Regions from separate parts of the Homo sapiens genome. Here region 1 is linked to region 2. Evidence: fine-mapped QTL for protein levels in blood plasma. A gene starts in region 2. The other region holds a variant in brackets. All regions are shown on one strand. Distances are between the middles of the regions.

Evidence for each region. A credible set is the group of variants that fine-mapping cannot tell apart. PIP is the posterior inclusion probability: the model's chance that the variant is causal. Protein levels are from antibody-based Olink assays in UK Biobank. Linkage for the fine-mapping came from a reference panel and not from the study's own genotypes, which makes the PIPs less certain.
Region 1: its variant is the best candidate, but not a certain one, in a credible set for the plasma level of the C1RL protein (UK Biobank, PIP 0.60).

Annotation. Positions count from the first base shown.
Region 1 is chr12:7,094,318-7,102,317 of GRCh38, reverse strand. It overlaps C1RL (complement C1r subcomponent like), which reads left to right. Exons shown (of 6, transcript NM_016546.4): 3 at 231-420; 4 at 2,292-2,417; 5 at 2,558-2,632; 6 at 5,155-7,764. The coding sequence ends at 5,927. Among named protein-coding and RNA genes, the nearest start is that of C1R, 5.9 kb to the right of the region's middle. The variant C/T (reference allele first, on the strand shown) is at 4,820.
Region 2 is chr12:7,105,024-7,121,946 of GRCh38, reverse strand. C1RL (complement C1r subcomponent like) reads left to right here and starts at 12,733. Exons shown (of 6, transcript NM_016546.4): 1 at 12,733-12,837; 2 at 13,468-13,696. The coding sequence starts at 12,767. It overlaps C1RL-AS1 (C1RL antisense RNA 1), which reads right to left and starts at 13,639. Exons shown (of 12, transcript NR_026947.1): 1 at 13,466-13,639; 2 at 13,000-13,274; 3 at 11,800-11,883; 4 at 11,375-11,649; 5 at 10,341-10,922; 6 at 9,883-9,940; 7 at 6,728-6,817; 8 at 3,270-6,561; 9 at 2,921-3,048; 10 at 2,394-2,447; 11 at 1,322-1,441; 12 at 96-235. It also overlaps a transcript of RBP5 not described here and the pseudogene RNU6-485P. RefSeq lists enhancers at 8,179-8,680, 12,792-12,871, 13,512-13,681, 12,514-13,713.

The DNA of each region.
Region 1 (8,000 bases), 15 kb after region 2:
GTAGGCTAAAGAAACATTGTAGTATGTGGTTATGTCTGGAAGAAACTCAGGCGTCAATAATGGAACCAGAAGCTAGTTGAGGAAGCCTCTGTGAGGTGCCTTCTGAGCCCCAGAGGGGCACGGCCCGTCTAGATGGGGCAGGAGTCACACCGAGGATGTGCCCCTGTGATGCCAGCAGCGCGGATTCACCCCACACCTATCTGCAGCCTCACTCCTCCTCCCGCTTTCAGATCTCATTCGTCGGTTCGGATCCAAGCCAGTTCTGTGGTCAGCAAGGCTCCCCTCTGGGCAGGCCCCCTGGTCAGAGGGAGTTTGTATCCTCAGGGAGGAGTTTGCGGCTGACCTTCCGCACACAGCCTTCCTCGGAGAACAAGACTGCCCACCTCCACAAGGGCTTCCTGGCCCTCTACCAAACCGTGGGTGAGTGTCCCTCCTGGGGGTGCAGGGAGGGAGCCTCTGTTCCCAGCCATGACCCTGGTATCTTCAAGCCTTAAGTGGAAGCTTGAGTGACAGCTGAGGCTGGGGACTCAGGGACACCTGGGCTGGATCCCAGCCCTGCCCCTGCTGGCAAGCAACCCTATTAAGAGACAGCCGTAGCTGAGCCCCCAGCGGTTGTTTCCATGCAGATTTACAGGCCCAGTGTTTGCAGATCATCTCATTTTTAAAGAGATGCCAAAAATCCAGATTTTTAAGTAAAATTATAAATTTTCAAATGATGACTCAGATTTGTTTTTGAAAGATAAATACTGGCTGGAGGCAGTGGTTCATGCCTGTAATCCCAGCACTTTGGAAGGCCAAGGCTGGAAGATTGCTTGAGGCCAGTAGTTGGAGACCAGCCTGGGCAACATAGTGAGACCCCGTTTCCACAAAAAAAATTAAAAATTAGCCAGGCATGGTGGTGCACACCTGTAGTACCAGCTACTCAGGGACTGAGGGGGAGGATTGCTTGAGCCAGGGAGTTTGAGGCTGCAGTCAGCCACAATCATGCCACCGCACTCCAGCCTGGGAGACACGGAGAAACTAGAAGAGAGAAAGAGAGGAAGAGAGGAAGGAAGGAAGGAGGAAAAGGGAGAGGGAAGGGAAGGGAGGGAAGAAAGCGAGAAAGGAGAAAGAGGGAAAGAAAGAAGGGAGGGAGGGAGAGAGGGAAAGTAAGAAGGGAAGGAAGGAAGGAGGGAGGGAGGGAGGGAAGAAGGAGGGAGGGAGGGAGGGAAGGAAGGAGGGAAGGAGGGAAGGAAGGAAGGAAAGGAAGGAAGGGTGCACATGATAAAATATCATTTTTTTAAGTATGCTAAAAAGTAAGTCTTCCTCTGATCTCTGGCTCTTAACTCCTGGCTGCCCTCCCCAGAAACAACTGTGTTCTCCATTTCCTGGATATTCTTCCCGGGAAGAGGATAAATTGTGTGTGTCTATATTGCAAGTGTTCTAAACGTGGTATTTTTCTACTGAATAATATATCTTAAAGATCATCCCATTCCATATGGACAGCACTAACTCATTTATTTTTTATTTTTTATTTTATTTATTGTTTTTTGAGACAGAGTCTCGCTCTATTGCCCAGGCTGGAGTGCAGTGGCGCAGTCTCTTCTCATTGCAACCTCTGCCTCCTGGGTTCAAGCGATTCTCCTGCCTCAGCCTCCTGAGTAGCTGGGATTATAGGTATGCCACCACACCCAGCTAATTTTTGCATTTTTAATAATGGTTTCACCTTGTTGGCCAGGCTGGTCTCAAACTCCTGACCTCAGGTGATCTGCCTGCCTCAGGCTCCCAAAGTGCTAGGATTACAGCCGTGAGCCACCGCACCTGGCGAACTCATTATTTTTAATGACCACATAAAATCTCCTTGATTGATGTGTCATAATGTATTTCATCAGCCCTCCTGATAGATACTTTGCTGCCACACATGGTGCTACTGTGCATATCCTTGCATTTACATCTTTGAGCACATGTGTGAGAATATCTTTAGACTAAATTTTTAGAAATGGAGTAGGTTAAAAAATATTTGCATTTTAAATTTTGATATTGCTAAAATTTTCTCCAAAACGGTTTTGCTAATTTACATACCTATCAAACATATATGGAAGTGCCTGTTCCCCCCTACCCTGCTTGTCACAGTTATCTTCAAACTCTTTGAGTGTTGTCAATCTGATCAGTGAAAACGAACTCAAATGTTTTAAAAAAACTAAAAATAAAAAATAAAACACTGTGCAAGTCAAACCAAGTATAGCCATGGGCCAGAATCAGCCCCTGGGTTGCCAGTTGGCAAGTCTGTGCTAGGTGCTGTTTTCCTATAGCTGTGAACTATAGTCAGCCCATCAGCGAGGCCAGCAGGGGCTCTGAGGCCATCAACGCACCTGGAGACAACCCTGCCAAGGTCCAGAACCACTGCCAGGAGCCCTATTATCAGGCCGCGGCAGCAGGTGAGTCCCCACCTGCCGAGGGGTGGCTTCCATCCACCTCATTCCCACCCAAATGCCTGACACCCTCTGAGCACCTGCTTCGTTAACCAACAGCTTCAACTCCGAGCCTATTTCTTTGCCTCTCCTCATTTACGCCACAGGGGCACTCACCTGTGCAACCCCAGGGACCTGGAAAGACAGACAGGATGGGGAGGAGGTTCTTCAGTGTATGCCTGGTGAGTAGCCACCTGCTAGCACCATTCCCCCAACAAGCCTCAGCTGCAACTGGGACCTACAGGACACAGGGGTTAAAGGAAAGCCTTAGAATAGAAAGGAAGATAAGAAGCAGAAGGTGAGGAAGAACAGGGCAATCAAGAAGGCCCAGAAAAGAACAGGCAGGGAGCTTGTTCCTCATTCTTCAGGGGTCAAGATATATCTGAGGAAAAGCATGAAGGACGTTCATGAGATGGACTAGAAAAGGAGGAAGAGAGACCAACAAGCTGAAGTAACAGAAAACCCTCTTTTTGTGCCATACATTTTAAGGATATACCGACAGGCTCTCTATTCCTAAAATATCTCCCTACCTAGATGCCACACAGTGCCAGACAGTCAACCATTTTAAAAAAAATTATTGAGATAAAATTCATGGCTGGGCGCAGTGGCTCACTTTTTTTTTTTTTTTTTTTTTTTTTTTTTGGGATGGAGTTTCTCTCTTGTCGCCCAGACTGAAGTGCAACGGCACAATCTTGGTTCACTGCAACCTCCATCTCCTGGGTTCAAGCGATTCTCCTGCCTCAGCCTCCTGAGTAGCTGGGATTACAGGCACCTGCCACTATGCCCAGCTCATTTTTTTATTTTATTTTATTTTTTTTTTTTTTTTGTATTTTTAGTAGAGACAGGGTTTCACCACGTTGGTCAGGCTGGTCTTGAACTCCTGACCTCAGGTGATCGTCCCGCCTCAGCCTCCCAAAGTGCTGGGATTACAGGCTTGGGCCACTGCGCCCAGCCTTAACCACTTTAAACAGTACAATCCAGTAATGTTTAGTGTGTTCACAATGTTGTGAAACCATTACCACTAATTCCAGAACATTTCCATTACCTTCCCCAAAACAGCCCAGTACCTCCAACTCTCCCCTGACAACCACTAATCTTCTATCTCTATGGATTTGCCTTTATGGATTTTATATCAGTGGAATCATATAATGTGTGGCCATTTCTGTCTGGCTTCTTTCAGTTAGCGTAATGTTTTCAAGGTTCATTCCTGTTATAGCATCCATCAGTATTTCATTTTTATGGCTAAATAATACTCCTTTCTATGGATACGCCATTTTGTTTATTCATTCAACTGATGGACATTTGGGTTGTCTCTATTTCTTGCCTATTATGAATGATGCTGCTATGAGCATTTGTGTACAAGTTTTTATATCAACGTACGTTTCTAAATCTCCTGGGTATATACCTAGCAGTAGACTTGCTGGATTGTATAATAATTCTGTTTAACTTTTTGAGGAACCACCAAACTGTCTTCAACAGCAGCAGCACCAAGTTACATCTCACCGGCAATACATGAGGGTTCAAGCCCACCATTTTTGAGATCCACGCTTTTGAATGAAAGCATTGCCTTCTTTTGTTTTGTTTGTTTGTTTGTTTTGAGACAGAGTCTCGCTCTGTCGCCCAGGCTGGAGTGCAGTGGCGCGATCTCGGTTCACTGCAAGCTCCGCCTCCCGGGTTCAAGCCATTCTCCTGCCTCAGCCTCCCGAATAGCTGGGACTACAGGCGCCCGCCACCACGGCCGGCTAATTTTTTTTTGTATTTTTTAGTAGAGACGGGGTTTCACCGGGTTAGCCAGGATGGTCTCGATCTCCTGACCTCGTGATCCGCCCATCTCGGCCTCCCAGAGTGCTGGGATTACAGGCGTGAGCCACCGCGCCCGGCCGAAAGCATTGCCTTCTTAACCCAATCTGATCCACGGAAAACTCTAAGGGTAGCCTGAACACTCGCAGTGCTTTGGGGATGGTTTGGAGGGCAGGTGGTAGTGGGAGATGTTACAAATGAGGAAGTGACACAAAACTGAGGCAGGAGGCACTGAAACAGACTCTGCCTGTAGTATGGGGGCCCAGGATGGTCCAAACGAATGGCTTTAATGCCTCTGAGGAGGCAGGAAGGAGAGCCCTGCAGAACCAGCCCCAAACATGTGCTCATCTGTGCTCCCTACCCTCAGTCCACTGTCCTGAGTCCCATGCAGGATGGGTGCCCCGTACACTTGGCATTGATTACCTGTCCTTGTCTGCCCACATGGTCTACACCGTGGGTCTGCATCAGTATAAGAGTCCTGATCCCGGCCAGGCGCGGTGCCTCACGCCTGTAATCCCAGCACTTTGGGAGGCAGAGGCGGGTGGAACACTGAGGTCAGGAGTTTCAGA[C/T]CAGCCTGGCCCACATGATGAAACCCCGTCTCTACTAAAAAATACACAAAAATTAGCCGGGCGTAGTGGTCGGTGCCTGTAATCCCAGCTACTCGGGAGGCTGAGGCAGAATTGCTTGAGCGCAGGAGGCGGAGGTTGCAGTGAGCCGAGATCGCGCAAGTACGCTCCAGTCTGGGCAACAAGAGCGAAACTCGATATCAAAAAAAAAAAAAAAACGTCCTGATCCCAGAGTCTCTTCACGCGTCCCCTACCACAGCACTTCAGAGAAGCAGGTCTTTAATCAGTGTGTCTAGATGCAGCTGCTGACTGTCACCCCTACCCCGCCTCTCTCCCAGTCTGCGGACGGCCAGTCACCCCCATTGCCCAGAATCAGACGACCCTCGGTTCTTCCAGAGCCAAGCTGGGCAACTTCCCCTGGCAAGCCTTCACCAGTATCCACGGCCGTGGGGGCGGGGCCCTGCTGGGGGACAGATGGATCCTCACTGCTGCCCACACCATCTACCCCAAGGACAGTGTTTCTCTCAGGAAGAACCAGAGTGTGAATGTGTTCTTGGGCCACACAGCCATAGATGAGATGCTGAAACTGGGGAACCACCCTGTCCACCGTGTCGTTGTGCACCCCGACTACCGTCAGAATGAGTCCCATAACTTTAGCGGGGACATCGCCCTCCTGGAGCTGCAGCACAGCATCCCCCTGGGCCCCAACGTCCTCCCGGTCTGTCTGCCCGATAATGAGACCCTCTACCGCAGCGGCTTGTTGGGCTACGTCAGTGGGTTTGGCATGGAGATGGGCTGGCTAACTACTGAGCTGAAGTACTCGAGGCTGCCTGTAGCTCCCAGGGAGGCCTGCAACGCCTGGCTCCAAAAGAGACAGAGACCCGAGGTGTTTTCTGACAATATGTTCTGTGTTGGGGATGAGACGCAAAGGCACAGTGTCTGCCAGGGGGACAGTGGCAGCGTCTATGTGGTATGGGACAATCATGCCCATCACTGGGTGGCCACGGGCATTGTGTCCTGGGGCATAGGGTGTGGCGAAGGGTATGACTTCTACACCAAGGTGCTCAGCTATGTGGACTGGATCAAGGGAGTGATGAATGGCAAGAATTGACCCTGGGGGCTTGAACAGGGACTGACCAGCACAGTGGAGGCCCCAGGCAACAGAGGGCCTGGAGTGAGGACTGAACACTGGGGTAGGGGTTGGGGGTGGGGGGTTGGGGGAGGCAGGGAAATCCTATTCACATCACTGTTGCACCAAGCCACTGCAAGAGAAACCCCCACCCGGCAAGCCCGCCCCATCCCAGACAGGAAGCAGAGTCCCACAGACCGCTCCTCCTCACCCTCTACCTCCCTGTGCTCATGCACTAGGCCCCGGGAAGCCTGTACATCTCAACAACTTTCGCCTTGAATGTCCTTAGAACCGCCTTCCCCTACTTCATCTGTTGACACAGCTTTTATACTCACCTGTGGAAGAGTCAGCTACTCACCCGCTATTAGAGTATGGAGGAAGGGGTTTTCATTGCATTGCATTTCTGAAACATTCCTAAGACCCTTTAGTTGACCTTCAAATATTCAAGCTATTCTGCAGCTCCAAGATGCAATTATAGAAACAGCTCCTTTTTTATTTTATGTCCTCTATATGCCAGGTGCTTCACCTGTTATTTCACTTAATCCTCATACCATATTTGCAAAGGATGTGTTATTATCTATGTGTGACAAATGAGGAAACTGAGGCTCAGGGGATAAAGGGACTTGCCCAAGTCCCACAGCTGGTGTGTGACTGCAGAGACTGTGCTCTTCCCAGTGTGCTGCAATACTTCTCAACCCTCCTCTAACCTGCTGTGTCACCCGCTTTCCCTCCCAGCCCCCACATCCTTACCATTTTCCCTCCCTGGGAATTCCTGCTTCTGCGAAAATGGTATCCTCTAGCTCACACTTTCCTAATGGCCCCATCTCCTGCAGAAGCCAGGTGAGCCCAGCACTGGACTGAAGTTCTTGCAGACACCCCACCTGTGCCCCTATCATCAGGGGAACTGCTCCACCTGAGAGGACCAACTCTTTAATTTTTAGTAAAACCTGGAGGTGATGGGCCGGGCGCAGTGGCTCACGCCTGTAATCCCAACACCTTAGGAGTCCGAGGTGGGTGGATCACGAGGTCAGGAGATCCAGCCCATCCTGGCCAACATGGTGAAACCCCATCTCTACTAAAAATACAAAAATTAGCCGGGCGTGGTGACACGTGCCTGTAGTCCCAGCTACTCGGGAGGCTGAGGCAGGAGAATCACTTGAACCTGGGAGGCGGAGGTTGCAGTGAGCTAAGATCACGCCACTGCACTCCAGCCTGCGGACAGACCAAGACTTCATCCCCCCCAAAAAAAAAAGATTGGAGGTGATTTACAGTGAAAGACACAAATAAAATACAACTGTTCAATGGAAATAGAAAATAAACACCATAAAAGAGAGAAGAGAGGTAATTTGTTAGCATCAAGAGTCAAGTTGCTATATGGTCAAAGGTTAAATTTATCTCTAAAAAATGGCAGGATTCAAAGTTGTACATACATGTGATTACTTCTGTTTTTTACACCCACATACAGTACAAAAGATTATTAAAAATATTCCCAAAAGGCAGGTGCAATGATGCACACTTATACCCCCAGCCACTCAGGAGGCTGATGCAAGAGGATCGCTTGAGCCCAGGAGTTGAAGTCCAGCCTAAGCAACATAGTGAAACCCCATCGCCAAAAATATAATAATAATTCTCTCAAAATACTAAACAGAGGTGGTTTTATTGATAAGATTTTGGCTGTTTGGTTTTCCACTATTCTCTATTGGCTAAAATTTGTTTAATGAGCATGAAATGTTTTTATTTTATTTTGCTTATTTTTATGATTGCAAAAAATGATATGAGTTTCTCCCTGCCAAGGCAAAAAAATATATATATACCTATATTTATATGTGTATGTCTAGATCTATATCTCTACATCTCCATCGCTGTCTCTGTCTAGAGATAGAGATATCGACAATGAGAGAGAGAGGGAGGTAAGAGATAGAGATGATGGAGATAGATGAGCTAGCGATAGAGACATATCCACAGAGGAAAACCTACCACTACTTTAAGAGAGAAATCTTTTTCCCAAGAATCAAATCCTTAAAGGAACAAACACTGTAACCGACTATATCCTCA
Region 2 (16,923 bases):
AGGGCCACAGACAGGTGGGTCCCACACCAGACCCTCCCAGGGACACACAAAGTTGTGGAGTTGACTTGGTTGGCCAGAGTCTTAAACTCCAGGGATGTGATCAGGAATCCAAAATGTTTATTTCCATATGGATGGAATAACTGTGCTCTCTAAGTCAGCCCAATGCAGGCCCCTGCCCCACTCCCACTCCACCAGGCCCAGATTCCAGCTGGAACTCCAGATGGTCCCTGAGAGTCTGCAAAGACCAAAGGTCAATTCAGAGCCCTGTCCCCAAAATAAACTGAGCAAAAGTGGATGGGGAGGATGGGTACAGGTGTGTGTCCTGTGAAGCAGAGGACCATGTGCTGCCCAAGGACTTGGGCTCCATCCCACTGGGGGGTCCCAAGAGGAGGCAGAGCAACAAGGTCTAGCCGTGTACCCCTCCCCACTGCCCACCTCTCCCCTCGGCCTCCACCTCCCACATGACCCTGACGCCTACGTGCCCAGGCCTATATGTTGAAAAGGAGCTCAGGTAGAAGCAGGAAGTGCCTCAGCTCTAAAGCACAAAGGCCATCCCGGGTCCAATCCTGTAACATGGTTGGACCACTTATTGGCAGCAGAGAACTCCTAGAGGCCACCACAGATCTCAAGATCCCAAGAGACAGCAGAGGCATGGCCATTTTGGTACCTTTCCCCCACCCTAATGTCACTCCCTAAGATGCAGGAACCCCATCTGGTCTAGCCTTAAGTACCCCAAGTAAGAGGCCTGGTATCCCCAGCATGCGGACGATGGAGATGAGGGTGGGAGCTGCCCCTTCCCTCCCCACCCCTCCAGCGGCTCCCTGCTCTTCCACAGGATGCACTTCCTCCCCTAGAGCCTGCTGCTCCCACCTGGCCTGGGACCACTTTTTCTTTTTTCTTTTTCTTTTTTTTTTTTTTTGAGACAGAATCTTGCTCTGCCGCCCAGGCTGGAGTGCAGTGGTGCAATCTCGGCTCACTGCAGCCTCCGCCTCCCAGGTTCAAGTGATTCTTGTGCCTCAGCCTCCTGAGTAGCCGGCACTACAGGCACGTGCCACCAGGCCCACGTAATTTTTTTGTATTTTTAGTAAAGACTGGGTTTCACCATGTTGGCCAGGCTGATCTCGAACTCCTGACCTCAAGCAATCTGCCCGCCTCAGCCTCCCAAAGTGCTGGGATTACAGGTGTTAGCCACCGCATCAGCCGTGAGGCCACTTTCATAACCCCCAACCAGCTCTCTGGGAAGTCTCCCCGGCTCCCTCTCCCTGGTGTAACGCCCTCAGTCATAAGAGTACCCATGCTTTCAGGGTCCCTGGGGACTCACCCTGCACATCCTGGGGCTGTGTCCATGATTATGGGCAGATGAGAATCGGGGAGACCTTGTAGGTACAGCAGGAGGTGAAGGGCAAGAGGTGAGGAGATCTGGTGGGCAAATCCAGGCGCCCTGTGAAGGACTGTGATATAACTGACCTGAGTTTGCATGGAGGACAGAAAGAAAGAAACAACAGTGGTAGCCAAGGCCTCTGAGGCCAGGGTGCAAGGAGTACCCAGAGAACCCTGCCTGCCCAGGGGCCAGAATCGGCACTCTCCAGGCCTGCCCCCTCTCCCCAGACCTCAGCCAACAGGACGGCATTGCTCTGTGGGAACCTGTGCTCCATGCTGAATATGCACCCCTACTAGAGGCCACTTAGGTACCGGGGGTATAAAACGTAGCTGACCTTCCACACTCACCTTTCCAGCAAAAACAAGAAGGATCTCCATCTTTCTCAAGGGCTTCTTGACCCACCATCTAGCTGGGGGTGAGCCTCCTGCCTCCCCCTACCCCACCCTTTCCCAAGCTCCCTTCCCTCTGCCCTCACTTTACTCTGGCCACCAGGGAGAGGAGGCAGCTCTCAGAGCCTCTGTTCTGTTCCCCGTGGGCAGTGCCCAAGCAGAAGGTCACCAGCATAGCCAGGCCATTGGGTTCATGGACAAATCACTTGCCTCAGAGGCTCTAGAGGAACCTAAAATGCCACCCAAAATTGGGAGGCAGTGCTGCATAGTGGCCAGGCATGAAATGCCACCTATTACTAGCTGCAGGAGTATATACAAATCGCCAGCCTTCAGCAGATGAGCCACATTGGCCAGCCCACAAGGCAACACCAAGAGTATTTCCTTCCTGCTGGGAATTTTGTGAAGATTGCATGCACACTCAGCAGAGGACCTGGAGTGGAGTGCGCCCTGACAGATGCTGGCTATCATTACTTGCACTATTCCCTGCCTCTTCACCTGATGATTGAAATTCTCTTAACTAGAAGCAAAGCCTTGTGTTCTTCAGTTAAGGACAAGGCATCAAGTGCCACTACCCTTGAGGTTACACAGTGACATATTTACACCGAAGTGTAAGTGACACATACCAGAGAATGGGGGCTAGTGTAGCCATCATCTTGCTGTCCAGGCAGGTAAACCATCTGGGGGTGACAAGGATGAAGGGGAGTTGCCTCCCTAAGGGATCCATATCCAGAGTCTCTCATTGCACCCCACCCCCCATCCCCAGAGAAGGGTGCCTGGGCTCCCCGGGACAGCATTGCCCTCCAGAGCCCCTGCTGCAATAGCCACTCTAGCCTTCCCACCCATGGAGAGAAGGCTTCAATGCAGGAGAAAAGGGATGACGCAGGGACAGCTGCCCAGCCCAGTGCCACTGCAGTGATGGCTGCACAGTCATCAGCTCCATCCACCCCTACCCCCCAGCCCTTGGGACCCCCCCCCATCCCCCACAGTACGTACTGCTATCTCATTCAAGGTGCCGGGCACCAGCAGCAGAGGCCACATCCCAGACCTGGACTCCCCAGCCACCAGCTGCAGGTACTGCCACTCTCCCTTAACCCTCCCAGCTACTCCCCTCCTCCCTATGACAGCTGAATACAGGAACCAGCGCCCTCACCCTGCCCTGGAGCTTCCTCATGCTTCCCTCTTCTTGAGAGGCCTCCACCCTCCTGGCCCTGGTCTCCTGCAGGATATCTCACCATCTTTCTTCTTCCTCCTCCTCCTCCTCCTCTTCTTCTTCTTCTTCTAAAATGATTTTTAAAAACACTTCATGAATTTGCATATCATCCTTGCACAGGGGCCATGCTAATCTCTTCTGTATCCTTCCAATTTGAGTATATGTGCTGCTGAAGCGAGCATATCCCATCGCCTTTCTACACCAGCAGAGCTCCAGCTTCCCCTCCATTCATGCCTCAGTATGTGCCCACACCCCTGCCCTACAGATGAGTCATAGATGGAGGGTCTACCTCAATGTGAATGGAACAGTTTTTCTTCCACGCAAGTGTGCATATCCCACACGATTCTGTCTTGCATGCACTTCTTCAATGTACGGTGCGTGTGCCTATTGTCGTGTGGCCTCTCCATCCTCTGTTCTATAGAACTGCTGAGAGCCAGCATCTTCCTTTCCCTCTCTGTACACAGAACAACAGCGGTGGCATCTTCCTTGACCCAGGCAGGTGGCACAATGCAGAGCTAAAGGCACCGCTCGAGGAGTCGTGTAACCTCAGGCGAATTCTTTCACTTCTGTGTGCCTGTGCTCCCTCCCAGGCCTGGTCCCGATCCACCTTCTGTCTTGTCTTTCCCACCTGCTCCTCCTCTTGGATTCCTCTCCCTTCCCGGCTGTTTTCGGAAGAGGCTCGCTCATATCCTTGACCCAGCTGTAAGGAAACTATTGTCACCCTTAATGAAACTAAAGCTTATCCTGCTGGGTCCTCATTGGAGCAAGAACCCACAGGTGAAGGGGCAGCCAGGTGGCAAAGCCCCCACCCCAGCCTGTCTCCCCACCACTCCTTCTTTTCTGAGAAGCACAGGTGGGACAAGGTGGGCCTCTTGAATGAGGGTTTATTAAAGTCTTGGAGGAAACAAAAGGGAAACAGAACAGAGAGTTATACTCACCTTGATTATCTGAGGCACAAATGCAGCCTCAGCCATGAACATATTGAAGGAAGGGATAGTCCAGTATGTAACAGACGCACCCTGCTATTGGCAAGCAAAGCACAGATGGAGTGAATTTAAAGAGTCCTTTACTAAAGGACTTTGTTTCAGGACGAAAGTCCACACAGAGCCCACAGGGTGTGGGAGATCTGAGATCTGGAACTGGGATCTCTGGGCTCTGAACTTGTTCTGTTGGGCAATCTGCTGATGGAGACCTTGTCTTCGAGTGTCAGGATGCACACTGTGGTCAGCTCCCCCTAGGTTGCAAAGGGCATTCTATCTGGGACTTGTCTTCCCTGCCCATCTGCTCTCCTTTTCAACAGCTTCTTGGTTCTTTTGAAACCTATGCTGTCTTCCCAAAGCCCTACCTCCTATTGTGTTGGCCTCCTGTAAGCCATGCTTTCATCTGTCCAGTCCTGCTCTTGGTGGGATGAACGAGAGGCCTCTACAGATCTCAAGGTGGAGGAGGAGAGGGTCAGAGCCCCCAAAGGTACTCTGGATTTGGGTAAATGCACCTGAAATACAACCATACCCAGCAAAAATAACATCCTGCTAGCTGATCGTCTGCACTTATTGTACTAAAATAATACATCTACTTCTATGAGAACCAGCGTCCGAGACAGCCACCAACAATACCTGCTTCCCAGTATTCCTGTCCTTGTGATGTCTCCTTCCACATCGGGTTGTCTGTGTGACCAATGGAATAAGGCAGAAATGATGCTACGTCACTTCCAAGGCTGGCTTATAAAAGACACTGTCACCTCTGCCTTGTTCTTTCCACCTTGGGTCACTCTGGGGAAAGCCAGCTGCTATGCCGCGAGGACACTCAAGCGTCCTATGAGGAGGGCCATGTGGCAGGGAACTGAGGCCGCCTGCCCACATCCATGTGAGTGACCGTCTGGAAGCAGACCTCCAGCCCCAGTCCCGCCTCTGGAGGACTGCAGCCTGCACCTGGACCAAAGCCTTGTGAGAGACCCTGATCCTAAACTACCCATCTCAGCCGCTTCTGGATTCCTGACCCACAGAAACTGTGTGAAATAGTACATACTTGCTGTTTTAAACAAAATGTGGGGGTGACTTTTTACAAGCAGACAGATAACTGCAACATAGTCTCAACCTTGAATTTCATTGCAAATGACCCCATCCTGACCATAACCTCAATATTCGCTAAGTGGGCAGAAGAATGGGGTTGGGGGGTGGGGGCAGTAGATGACTTCGGGCAGTAAAAATGTGTCCAGTCACAAAAAGGCATGACTCCATCCTCAGTGCTCACAGCCCTCCCATCCTAGCTCTAAGCTAGACCCTTCCACGAGTCTAGAGAGTGAAGTTCAGAGGCAGGCAGCTGCCCCCTTTCCCTTCCTCTTTGAGGCCCACCCACCTGAGTCCTGTCTGAGGACTGCCTCTCCCCTAGGTAATTGTTAAAAGGAATGTCCAGCATCTTCAGATGGTACCCTGCTCGTTTCAAAGTTGTGTGACCTTACTCTGTGGCTTCAAAAGGACAAAGACATCAGAATACAACTCAATGCACCTCACGCCATTAGACAGCATGAGTGACAAGCCGCAGGGAGGATATATCAGACAGCACCAGATCTTAGCTGGTAGGAAGCTGATTGACAAGTTCTGTGGAGGACAGAGCAGCAGAGCCCTGAAGTCCACAGCAATAAGGGGAAGATGGTGTTCTAGACACACCAGCAGGGAAGAGCCAAACCTGGATGGTCAGTTTGACCTCCCAGGGTAAGGAGCCTCTGGGTCTTCTCTACCTCTCCCAGGACCACCACAGTGAAACTAGAGCCAGAGGGTTCTTTGCTGAAAAGAGGGTGAGTGAGGTGGAGAGATGCAGATGAGAGGAGGCTTTATGCAGAAGCCATCAGGTTGTGCCATATCTAAAGCCTGGAAAAAGGAGGATACCAGCTGATAGGATTTGGCTCTATGTCCCCAACCAAATCTCATGTGGAATTGTAATCCCCACGTGTTGGAGGAGGGGCCTGGTGAGAGGTGATTGGATCATGGGGGCAGTTTCTAATGGTTTAGTGCCATCCCCCTAGTGCTGTCTCCCGATGGAATTCTCATGAGATCTGGTTGTTTAAAAGTGTGTAGACTTCTCCCTTCTTCTCTTTCTCCTGCTGCCATGTGAAGAAGGTCCTTGCTTCCCCTTCGCCTTCTGCCATGATTATAAGCTTCCTGAGGCCTCCCAGTCATGCTTCCTGTTAAGCCCGCAGAACTGTGAGTCAATTAAACTTCTTCTCTTCATGAATTCCCCAGTCTCAGGTAGTTCTGTACAGCAGTGTGAGAATGGACGAATACAGCAGCGAAGGTGGTACAAGGGCTTTCTGTTCCACTGTGCTCTTCCTGAGTCAGAACCTTTGGGCAGTCCCCAGCCTGCCACCTAGGGACTTCTGCTGCCACCCAGGAGAAGCAGAATGCCCACCAGGCCCAGATCTGCTACCACTTCCAGAAGCCCTGTTACTAAATGATAGGCCCCAGGTGAGGACCAGCCAGGCCCTCTCCAGGGCAGGATCCTTCTCCTTCTACTCACAGAGCTGCTCTCTACAACCAGGTACCAACAGTGAGGAGGCGGTCACGTGGCAATGATCAGGCTTCTCACTAGAGAATAGTAAATGGGGCAGGGCCGTGTTCAGACCCTCAAACTCTACCCAACCCCATCTCCCAGATGCACCTGTCTACCACCTGCTTCTCTTCCTCCCTGCACACCTTGAAAACTCCAAAACCTGGTGCATACTCCCCACTCTGCCCCATCCCAAGAACTCACCCACAGACGCAGGTGGACACCTAGATGTGCTGAGTCCTAGGGCTGCCACAGCCTGCAGGACAAAATTCCTCCCTCAAGGAACCCACAGCCCTGTGGGAAAGACAGACACACGGGCAGGAGGTTATCATGCATCAAGAGTCCATGAGCACAGGGAAAGTCATTTTCTCTGAGTCAAAGAGGGCTTCCCAGAGGAGAGGACACGGGGAGAGAGGTGAGTAAAAATGGCCGGCATCCAGGGCATGAGTACTACATGCCGAACGCTGACTCTTCTCAGGAACCCAAGCACAGGTTATTGTCCCCATTCTACAGATAAGAAAACTAAGGAACAGAGAATTTTAAGTAATTTGCCAAAGGTTATACATGAAATAAAAGACAGAGATGGGATTTGAACCCAAACAGATTGGAGCCTGACCACCCAACCCTCAGTTTCTCCACCTCGCCCCTATTGACGTTCAGGACCAGGTAACATTTTGTTGTGGGACCTGCTGCCTTGTGCACTAGGATGCTTACCAGCATCACTGGCCTGTATCCACTAAATGCCAGTAATGGAAAAAAGAAATCTCTAGATATCATCAAATATCCCCTGGGGAGCAAAACTGCTCCTTGTTGAGTACCACTGATCTAACCATTTTGCTATTCTATTCTGCTTCCTAAGCAAGTAATGATATTTATTGTTTGCCAAATGACAGACACTGCCCTAAGCAATTCTGGTTATTAACTCATTTAACCCTCACACCAACCCTCTGGTGTGGGTACCGTTGTCCTCATCCTTGTTCTTCAGATGAGGATGTTAAGAGGCACAGAGAAATTATGTAAGCTGGCCTTGGTCACCAAACTTTTAAATGGTAGAGCCTGGGTTTAAACCTGGTGAGTGTGGCACACAAGCCCACTCCTTTAAGCAGCATGTTATGCTGATGACTGAAGAACACGGCATTGGTCGGGGAGTCACACATGCAAACGCAAGGCATGTTTGTGAAGCCATAGCATCATGACCGCGCCTGGAACACACATGCGAGGCGGCAGCGGTGGAGAGCGAAGCCAGAAAGTCATGCAGAGCCTGATTATGAAGGAAGAACCTGACGAGACAAACAAGTGGCTGGGGCTTCATCTCATGGATCAGGAGGCACAGTCATTGAAAAGTTTTAACCTGGGAAGGGGCACGATTGATTGAGATTTTAGATACTGGCAGAGTAGGGAGGATGGGCTTAAGGGCTAAACCTAGTGGCTGACACTCCATTGGGGTTGAGCTAGCGACTGCCTAGGTGTCCATAAGGCATGGAAGTCAAGGCCCTGACATGAAAGCCTGAGATAACTTGGGGGTGGAGGAGTGTGACCCATTAGGGTCACCCCTCTGCCCTGGGCTGTCCACATCTCCACTGGCCATGCCAGACAGAAGCAAAGGGTCCCAGTCTGGCTGACTCAGCCGCCTCATCACCCCTGCTGCTCTTCACCTCGCTCCTGTATCTCCCTCCTCACCTGGCACTGGGCACAAAAGCCCCCACGTGTCCCAGCCCAGGGCAAGGTATCTAGAGATAAGACAGGGAAGCTGTGGACAGAAATGGCTCGTGCTGCCCCAGACTCCTCTGCCTGGGCTCTCCTGTGGCTGTTTGGATTCCAGGAGAGGGCAAGCTCCTCTCTAAATGCTGGGGGCTCATGAAGGCTGCAGAGAAACTCCCTGGCCAGGAAGCCCCAAGGCACTTTCTGTTGTCCTGCCCTTCCCCTTTCAGGACAGAAGGGGGCAGCACCAACACGATTTTCAAAAATAAAACCAAAAATAAAGTCACTGGAGCACCCCAACCTTGTTTGCCCAGCTAAGATTGGAAAGACCCATGCCTGGCCTAAGTTTATATGCAAGGACAAAAACTTCTTCATTAATCATGTGGATTAAAGATGCCGATTAAAGGATCCATCCCCTCATTCTCTAATCCTGTCTGGCTCAGAAAGGACCATCTGGTCACAATTATAATTTCAGATACATTTATTTTGTAACTATCAAAGTTATTAAATAATATTAAAGAAGTTTTACTAAACAGAGAAACATGGTTTAAATCATCCACAACCCCATACTCTAATAGGAAGCAGTTATTTTAGATTTTTCTCACGGGTGCTTTCTATATTTGTAAACATAGTATCCTTACAATTTGGTAGCTTGCTACCTTTACTTAGCATGCCAGGAATCCCAGCTCCCTTACCTGCACTTGGGGGCCTTAACATAGAGCAGAGGTGGCCTATGCTCTTTAGGGACACTTGGGTAAGGGAAAGGGAACTGAAGTAAATGATTGAAGTGTTAGCAATAAGGTGACCAACTGTCCTGGCGTGTCGGGGAACTTAACTGGTTTTAGTGTTGAAAACCTCATGTCCTAGGAAAACCTCATTTCTAGACAGACCAGGATGATTTCTAATAGGTTACCCTATTAGAAAAAAGTCCCCCCAAATTCAGACATCCATTTTCATTTCTACATCGGCCTTTCAGCTATACTTCTTTGCTTTTTTCTACTAGTAGTCACCCTAGGGCAACTGTTCTCAAACTTTATACCCTTAAAAAATTATTGAGAACTCCAGAGAGCTTTGGCTTATGTAGGGTATATCTATTAATAGTCACTGTACTAGAAATCAAAATTGAGAACATTTTAAATCACAAAGATACACAAGCACGCATCCCGCTCACTGCCACGGATGAATCATTGCACATCACGTAGCCTCTGTAAATCCACCATATACCATGACAGAATGAGAGGGAAAAAAGCAAAGAACATCTGAGTATTTTTATGAAAGTCATTTTGTTACCTCACAGACCCCGTGAAAGGATCTTAGGGCCTGTGGGTCTTCCCACACCACAGGGTGGAGACCCGCTGCTCTGGGAATTAGTCTGCATCCTAAACTCCAGTTTTCTCAGTTCCTATTGTACCACTTCATGTGAAATGAAGGAAACTTGTAACCATGAGTCCACCCCCTTGTCCTCTATACCAGCAGTCCCCACCCTTTTTGGCACAAGGGACTGGCTTCATGGAAAACGGTTTTTCCACAAACCAGGGATGGGGCCAGAGGGAGATGGTTTCAGGATAGTTCAAACACATTACATTCATTGCATGTTTTCTTTCTATTATTATTGTTATTGTAATATATAATGAAATATTAATAATTATACAACTCACCGTAATGTAGAATCAGTGGGAGCCCTGAGCTTGTTTTCTTGCAACTAGACGGTCCCATCTAGGGGTGATAGGAGACAGTGACAGGTCACCAGGCATTAGATTCTCATAAGGAGCACACAGCCTAGATCCCTCCATGCATAGTTCACAATAGGGTTCGTGCCCCTATGAGAATCTAATGCTGCTGCTGCTGCTGCTGCTGACAGAAGACGAAGTTCAGATGGTAATGTGAGTGATGGGAAGCAGCTACAAATACAGATGAAGCTTTGCTTGCTCACCACCACTCACCTCCAATACTGGTCCACGGCTCAGGGGTTGGGGACCCCTGCTTTATACTACAGTCTTCATATATGTTACAGCTACATATGTTATAAACCTCACAATACAATGTTATAATTTTTGCCTGGAACAGTTCTACATATTTTAAAGACATTAAAAAGAAAATCGTATTTTATATTTACCTTCAAATTTACCGTTCTTCTTATTCCTGTCTGCAGCTCTGCTCTTCCAATTTGAGACAGCGTCTCACTCTGTCACCCAAGCTGGAGTGCAGTGGCACCGTCATGGCTCACTGCAGCCTCCATCTTCCGAGCTCAAGCAATCCTCCCACCTTGGCCTCCCAAAATGCTGGGATTATAGGCGTGAGCTATCGTGCCCGTCCTAAAGAACTTTCTTTAGCGCTTCTCATAGTGGAGGTCTGCTGGCGACAAGAATCTCTGTTTTCTTTTATCTGAAAATAGCTTTATTTCATCTTCATTCTGGAAGAATACTTTCACTAGAAAAACAATTCTGAGTTGACTTTTTTTTTCCTTCAGCATTTTAGAGATATTCCACTGTCTTCTGGTCTATATTGGTTTTGATGAGAAAAGAGTGACATTGAAAATATTGTTCTGTCTAGTCTTTAGGATGGGATTAAAAAAAAGAAAAGATTTTCTCTTGTCTTTGGCTTTTAGCAGTTTGACCATGATGTGCCAAGGCATGCCCTTTTTTTCATTGACCACTCTGCCAGTTAGAGACGAGGTCCCAGTGTAGGGGAGGTGGTGCTGAAAACACAGCGGGGCACAGCTCAGCCCTAGCCCACAGGGGCCTGCAGTGACCAGCTATGCACAGAGCCATCAGCTCCTTCTCCAGTCTCACATCACCAGCCATTCCTCCCCTTGCCCTTGACCCTAACTCATGCTGCAGCCGCACACGCCACCTAGGTGAGACCAAGGTGGGCCCTCATCTTCAGAGTGCTGGATTACCCCAAACAGGGACCACATCCAGACCCTGGACTGCCCAGTCACCTGGGGCTGCCGGTGCATCACTGCCTCCCCACCCTCTTGGCTCCCTGTCCTCTTTCTCACCCAGCCTCACTCCAGCACTTTAACCCCTATCCATTTAGGGTGACCACCAGTCCTGGCTTGCCCAGAACTTCCCTCATTTTAAAACGGAAAGCCTCATGTCCTGGGAAACCCGTCGGTCCCACGCAAATCAGAACAGTCGGTCACCCTACCTGTCCTGGAGTTTCCTTCCAAGGCCTTACTCCTCCCTCCTCCAGCTCATCTCCAGGAAAGTCTTCTCAGATGGGCTAGCCTGAGTTTTCCAGTTCCTGCCCCTCTTAGCAAACAAGGAAATAATGCTCTGAAGGGAAACGAGGGGTGGACTCCCCAATCCTGATCTGAGTCTTGGCTGGTTTCTTCTTAACACATGGGTCTTGGGATTGGTACCATTGTTCACTCTTTGGCTGCATCTCTGGCTCCCAAGGTGCTCCAGGTGACCCTAAGAGTTCTATGAGAGAGCAGGTTTCAGTGGTCTCAGGGGAGGAAAGAAGTCCTAGTCAGAGAGGCCCACTCCTCGAAGATGGGTATGGGAGATCATCCCCAGTTGTGTTTGGGGTTGGGGTGTGGCAGACAGGTAGGCTTGATCTCAAGACTGTACCTGAGACATTGCATCTGTCCTGGCCATCACTCTCTTATCATCTCCTTGTAGCCATAGACTGTGGCTCTCCTAAATCTCTCTAGCCTAGAAAAACCAAAGATGCAGAGCACACCCTGTTTGGGTCTGTAACTTGCCTCCATATTACTATATGCAAAATGGGGGAAGCAATAGATTCTTCTCTGAGAGGTGTGTGTGCGCGCGCACATGCATTTGTGTGTGCATACAACGTAAGGCCTTCCACACACCTGCCTTCTCTGAGGATGGGACCACCCATCTCCATAAGAGCCTTCTGGCCTCCTACCAAGCTGTGGGTGAGTGTCCTTCCTCGGGGAGCGGTGAGAGCAGGCAGGGGCTCTAGTATCTGCCTAAAGAAGCTTGAGTGACGGCTTGAGTGATGACTGGGACTAGGGACTGAGGGACACCTGGGCTCGACCCCAGCCCTGACCATGCTGGACAAGCAGCCTCCAGAGGTTGTGAATAGGATTCAAAAGACCACCTAAGCGCATGTCCCCCACCCCTGCTTGGGGAGGAGGGAAAGGAAGAGAAAGCTCAAGTTCAAGGATCACAAACTTCAATTCTACAAGAGGGAGGCTCCCCGGGTATGTCGTGAACGGAAAGGTCGGGGAGGAAGAGACATGGCTGATTGAAGGCAGCAGCCATAACTCACAAGGAGCCATCCTACACACATGGCAAAAATTAATGTTAAATAGTACAAAAGGGTCGAGTCAGTGCCCTGCCACCCTGACCTCTGAGGGCCAGCGAGGTTTTTGGACGTTTCTCCCCTAAGCTGCGGCGGGCCCGCTGTTCCTGAGTCAGACGGCAGGTGGCGCTCAGCCCGGAGAATTGGAGAAGGGGAACTGTGGAGTTGCTTAACATTTCCAGGAACTTCCTCCTCCCCCACCGGCCTTCACCTTTTGTTCCCTATCCTGGGCCAGTTCTCTCGCAGGTCCCAGATGTCCAGTTCCAGATGCCTGGACCCAGAGTGTGGGGGAAATATCTCTGGAGAAGCCCTCACTCCAAAGGCTGTCCAGGCGCAATGTGAGTGTGGCCCCGGCAGAGGAGGAGGGAAGAGGACGGGAGGGGAAGAGAAAGGGTGGGTGGCCGCAAACCCTCCCTCCCCCCACCCTACCCCCCCCACACACACATCCCCCCCCCCCCCACACACACACACACACACACACCTCCCCCACATACACACACCAGCAGCAGCAGCAGCAGCAGCACAGCAGATATTCCATGGGGAGACTGAAATTTGCCTGTGGCCTCTAGCACCTTCCCAGAGGGTGGTCGGGGGATATTTACGGCAGACCCTCACTCGCCCCACCATTGCTCCCTCGGATCCCAGGGTGGGGTGGGATCTGCTGAAGCAGAAAGCACCCCCCTCCTTTGGACGAGACTCTCCTGGGAGATGAGCAAAGGTGATGTCTTCGGAGGATGGAAAACCCACAATCCTAGAGCTCAGGCTGCGCGGGAGGCTGTAGGGATTGGGGTGAGGAAGGGGAGCAAGGGAGGAGACGGGAAGTGCCCGGGCCTCAAGGGTGAGGCCACAGCTTCTAGCCCTGCCTCGCGAGGCCTCTGAGTCCTAGCGCGGCTCCCCCGCTCCTCCCACACCCACAGGCTTCCGGCCATAGCTGCGCGGCCCCACCTTGCCCTCCCCCCAACTCACAGGTGGTGGCTGCTTCTCTGGGGAGTCCTCCAGGCTTGCCCAACCCGGGGCTCCGTCCTCTTGGCCCAAGAGCTACCCCAGCAGCTGACATCCCCCGGGTACCCAGAGCCGTATGGCAAAGGCCAAGAGAGCAGCACGGACATCAAGGCTCCAGAGGGCTTTGCTGTGAGGCTCGTCTTCCAGGACTTCGACCTGGAGCCGTCCCAGGACTGTGCAGGGGACTCTGTCACAGTGAGCTGGGGATGGGGGGGGTCCCGCCAGGACTGTGGCCAGGGAGATTCCCGGGGTTGTGGGAAGTGGCGGTGCCCTGAATCCCCCATCTGGAGGAGGGATGAATTTTCCATGTAGGGGCAGTCGGGCTTGGCTTACCGGGGAGCAGTGGTGGACCCCAGGACACAGCCTCCCACCAGCGCCTCCGGGGCTGCCATCTGGGCCCCACAGAGCAAAGAGGGCAGCAAGCAGGCCCTGCGTTTGGAAGGCTTATGAATGGACACACAAATCTTGCAAATCTATGGAGCCAGGGGCAGGGACGCACATATTGGTTGTTAAAAATATGTCATCATGTATTTGTTGAGTGCCTGCTCTATCAGGTGAGGAAGCTGGACACAAATAATAACAAAAGATTAAGTCACCGTTCACACTTACCTTGGAAGAGCTATTACAAAACTTCTAACGCCAAAGCCTTATTCAGAATAAGGACATTTTAAAAACAGTACTTGATGGAGTGATGCAAGCTTGCAGTCCCAGCAGTATAGTCAGGAGACTGAGGCTGGAGGATCAGAGGGCTGGAGCCCAGGGTTCAAGGCCAGCCTAAGCAACATAGCAAGACCCCATCTCAAAAATAAGTAAATAATAAATAAAAATAAAAAGAGCACATTATCTTTTGATTTAAATTTTATTTATATCAAAATGACATAAATTTTTGAACTTTATTTTTTAATTTTAAAATTTTTAATTATTATGGATACATAATAGTTGTAAGACTTTTTGTTTTTTAATTAAAGTTTTCTAAGGCTGGGCGCAGTAGCTCATGTCTGTAGTCCCAGCACTTTGGGAGGCTGAGGCGAAAGAAGCACTTGAGCCCAGGAATTTGAGACCAGCCTGGGCAACATAGCAAGACCCCATCTCTACAAAAAAATTTAAAAATTAGCCAAGTGTGGTGGCACGCACCTGTGGTCCCAGCTACAAGGGACGCTGAAGTGAGAGGATCACTTGAGCCTGGAAGGTAGAGGCTGCAGTGAGCTCTGATCATGACACCGTACTCCAGCCTGGGTGACAGAGTGAGACCCTGTCTCCAAAAAAAAAAAAAGGTTTTTAAAAAGGTTTATGAATAACAGCAGTCTCCAAGCTGTTCCTCCCCGCCCCTGAGTGCTGCTCCTCAGGAGCAGTCATTTGCCAATTCATGTAGCTGTTTCATCTGGTCTTTAACTTCATATGTATAAATAACATGCTTATTTGTCTTTCATTTTTACGTATTTTCTATTAATGCTCAACTACAGTATAGAAGATAAGGACTAGCTTTATCTGTCTTCAGTCTTCACCACCCACATTTCCCCTCCTCATTCTGCCAGTTTACCTATATTATCATTTTTAGTTAAATCTTTATTCATTATTTACATTATTATGACTGTAAAATATTCACATCTGAGCACATAGCATAAAATAATTATATTTCTTTTCTTCTCCAACTTTTGGGTTTCCTAGGAGTCAATAGTTACATGGAGTTTTTTTGTTTTGTTTTGTTTTGTTTTTTGGTGGGGGGTGTTTGTTTTTGTTTTGCTTTTTAGTTTGCTTAGTTGTCTCTGTAACTAATCTCACCAGACTCTTAACCAGGAGTGTAAATCTTCTTCTGAAATACTCAAGCATGAATTTCAGTCTATCGGTCCTCCTTTTAATTGGTGACATCCCTCCTGAAGATCTCTCGATTTATTTTCACAGCCTGAGTTCTTTGCTCTCTAAGCCGTCACACATTCTGGGAGTTCTCTTCTCCCTCTTTCTGGGGATTTCCTTTACCTGTGCTGAACCTGAATCCCATACCTTTCTCTTTTTTGGTTTACTCTCCCATTTTGGAGGAGCACCTTCACCAGTGGCTTCCTTAGAAAGGGTATTTTAGAGTGAATTTTAGAAGATCTTATATATGTCTAAATGTCTCAGTTCTACCCTCACAGTGGAGGGATAGTTGATCTGGGTATAGCATTCTAGATTGGAAACCTTTTTCTTCCAGAATTTTGATGATATTGTCTTCTAGGTCTAGACTTTGTTAAGAAGTTTGATGCCCTTATCATTCCTAATCCTTTGTTTTCTCTCTCTAGAACTTTTGGAATATTTTCCTTATTACCAGTATTCTGGACTTTCATTATGATGTCTCTTGATACACGTGGTTTTTTACTCATTGTGCAGATTTCTTTTAATCTAGAGCCTCTTTTAATCTAGTCCTTCAATTCTAGGAATGTTCTTGTGCTATTTTTTAAATAATTTCCAGATATCTCATTTCCTTAGTTTCTCTTTCTCCTATAATTCAGCTGTTGTATGTTCTAGATTGATTCTCTAGCTTTGTTATCTGTTTTGTTCTATTTACCATCTCTTTTGTTCTGCCTCCTGGGAAATTTTCTCATCTTTAAATCCCCATCTTTTAGTTAATGGTTTCTTTCCACTGACATATTATTTCATTTCTAAGGATTCGTTCTAATTTTCTAAATGTGCCTTTTTATAGAGTATTGTTCTTGTTTCATTGATGCAGTATCAACTCCTTTCCCTCCTTTGGGATTATTTTTAGATGTTTCTTCTGTTCTCTATAGTGGGTCTATTTCATCCAAGTTCTTTTTTACCGTTTGTCTGTTTTGGTCTCTGCTTTTTGTGTTAGAGACTTTCCTACGATATCTGATAATACTTGGCTGTCCATTCATATTTAAGGCCGGGCGCAGTGGCTCACATCTGTAATCCCAGCACTTTGGGAGGCCGAGGCAGGCAGATCACCTGAGGCCAGGAGTTTGAGACCAGCCTGGCCAACATGGTGAAACCCCGTCTCTACTAAAAATACAAAAATTAGGCAGGCATGGTGGTGTACGCCTGTAATCCCAGCTACTTGGGAGGCTGAGGCATAAGAATCGCTTGAACCTGGGAGGTGGAGGTTGTAGTAAGCCGAGATCAGGCCACTGCACTACAGCCTGTGGGGTGCAGAGTGAGTCTCTGTCTCAAGGAAAAAAAAAAAAGAGTGGAGCACTAAAATACTGATTGGAAGTTCTGTGTGGATAGCTAAAATTTGTCAAATGATAGGTTTGAAAATAGGGTTATCGACAAGGTGACCTAGATGTGCCACTGGGGGCCTCCCAACTGTCAGGATGTAAAAGCATTTTATTTGGGGGCAGCCAGTTTCCCCTGAGAGGACTCCTGCAGATTCCAGCTCAGGGACCCCAGCATTCTGGTCAACAAGCTGAGAAAAGGGCCTGGTGGAGGGA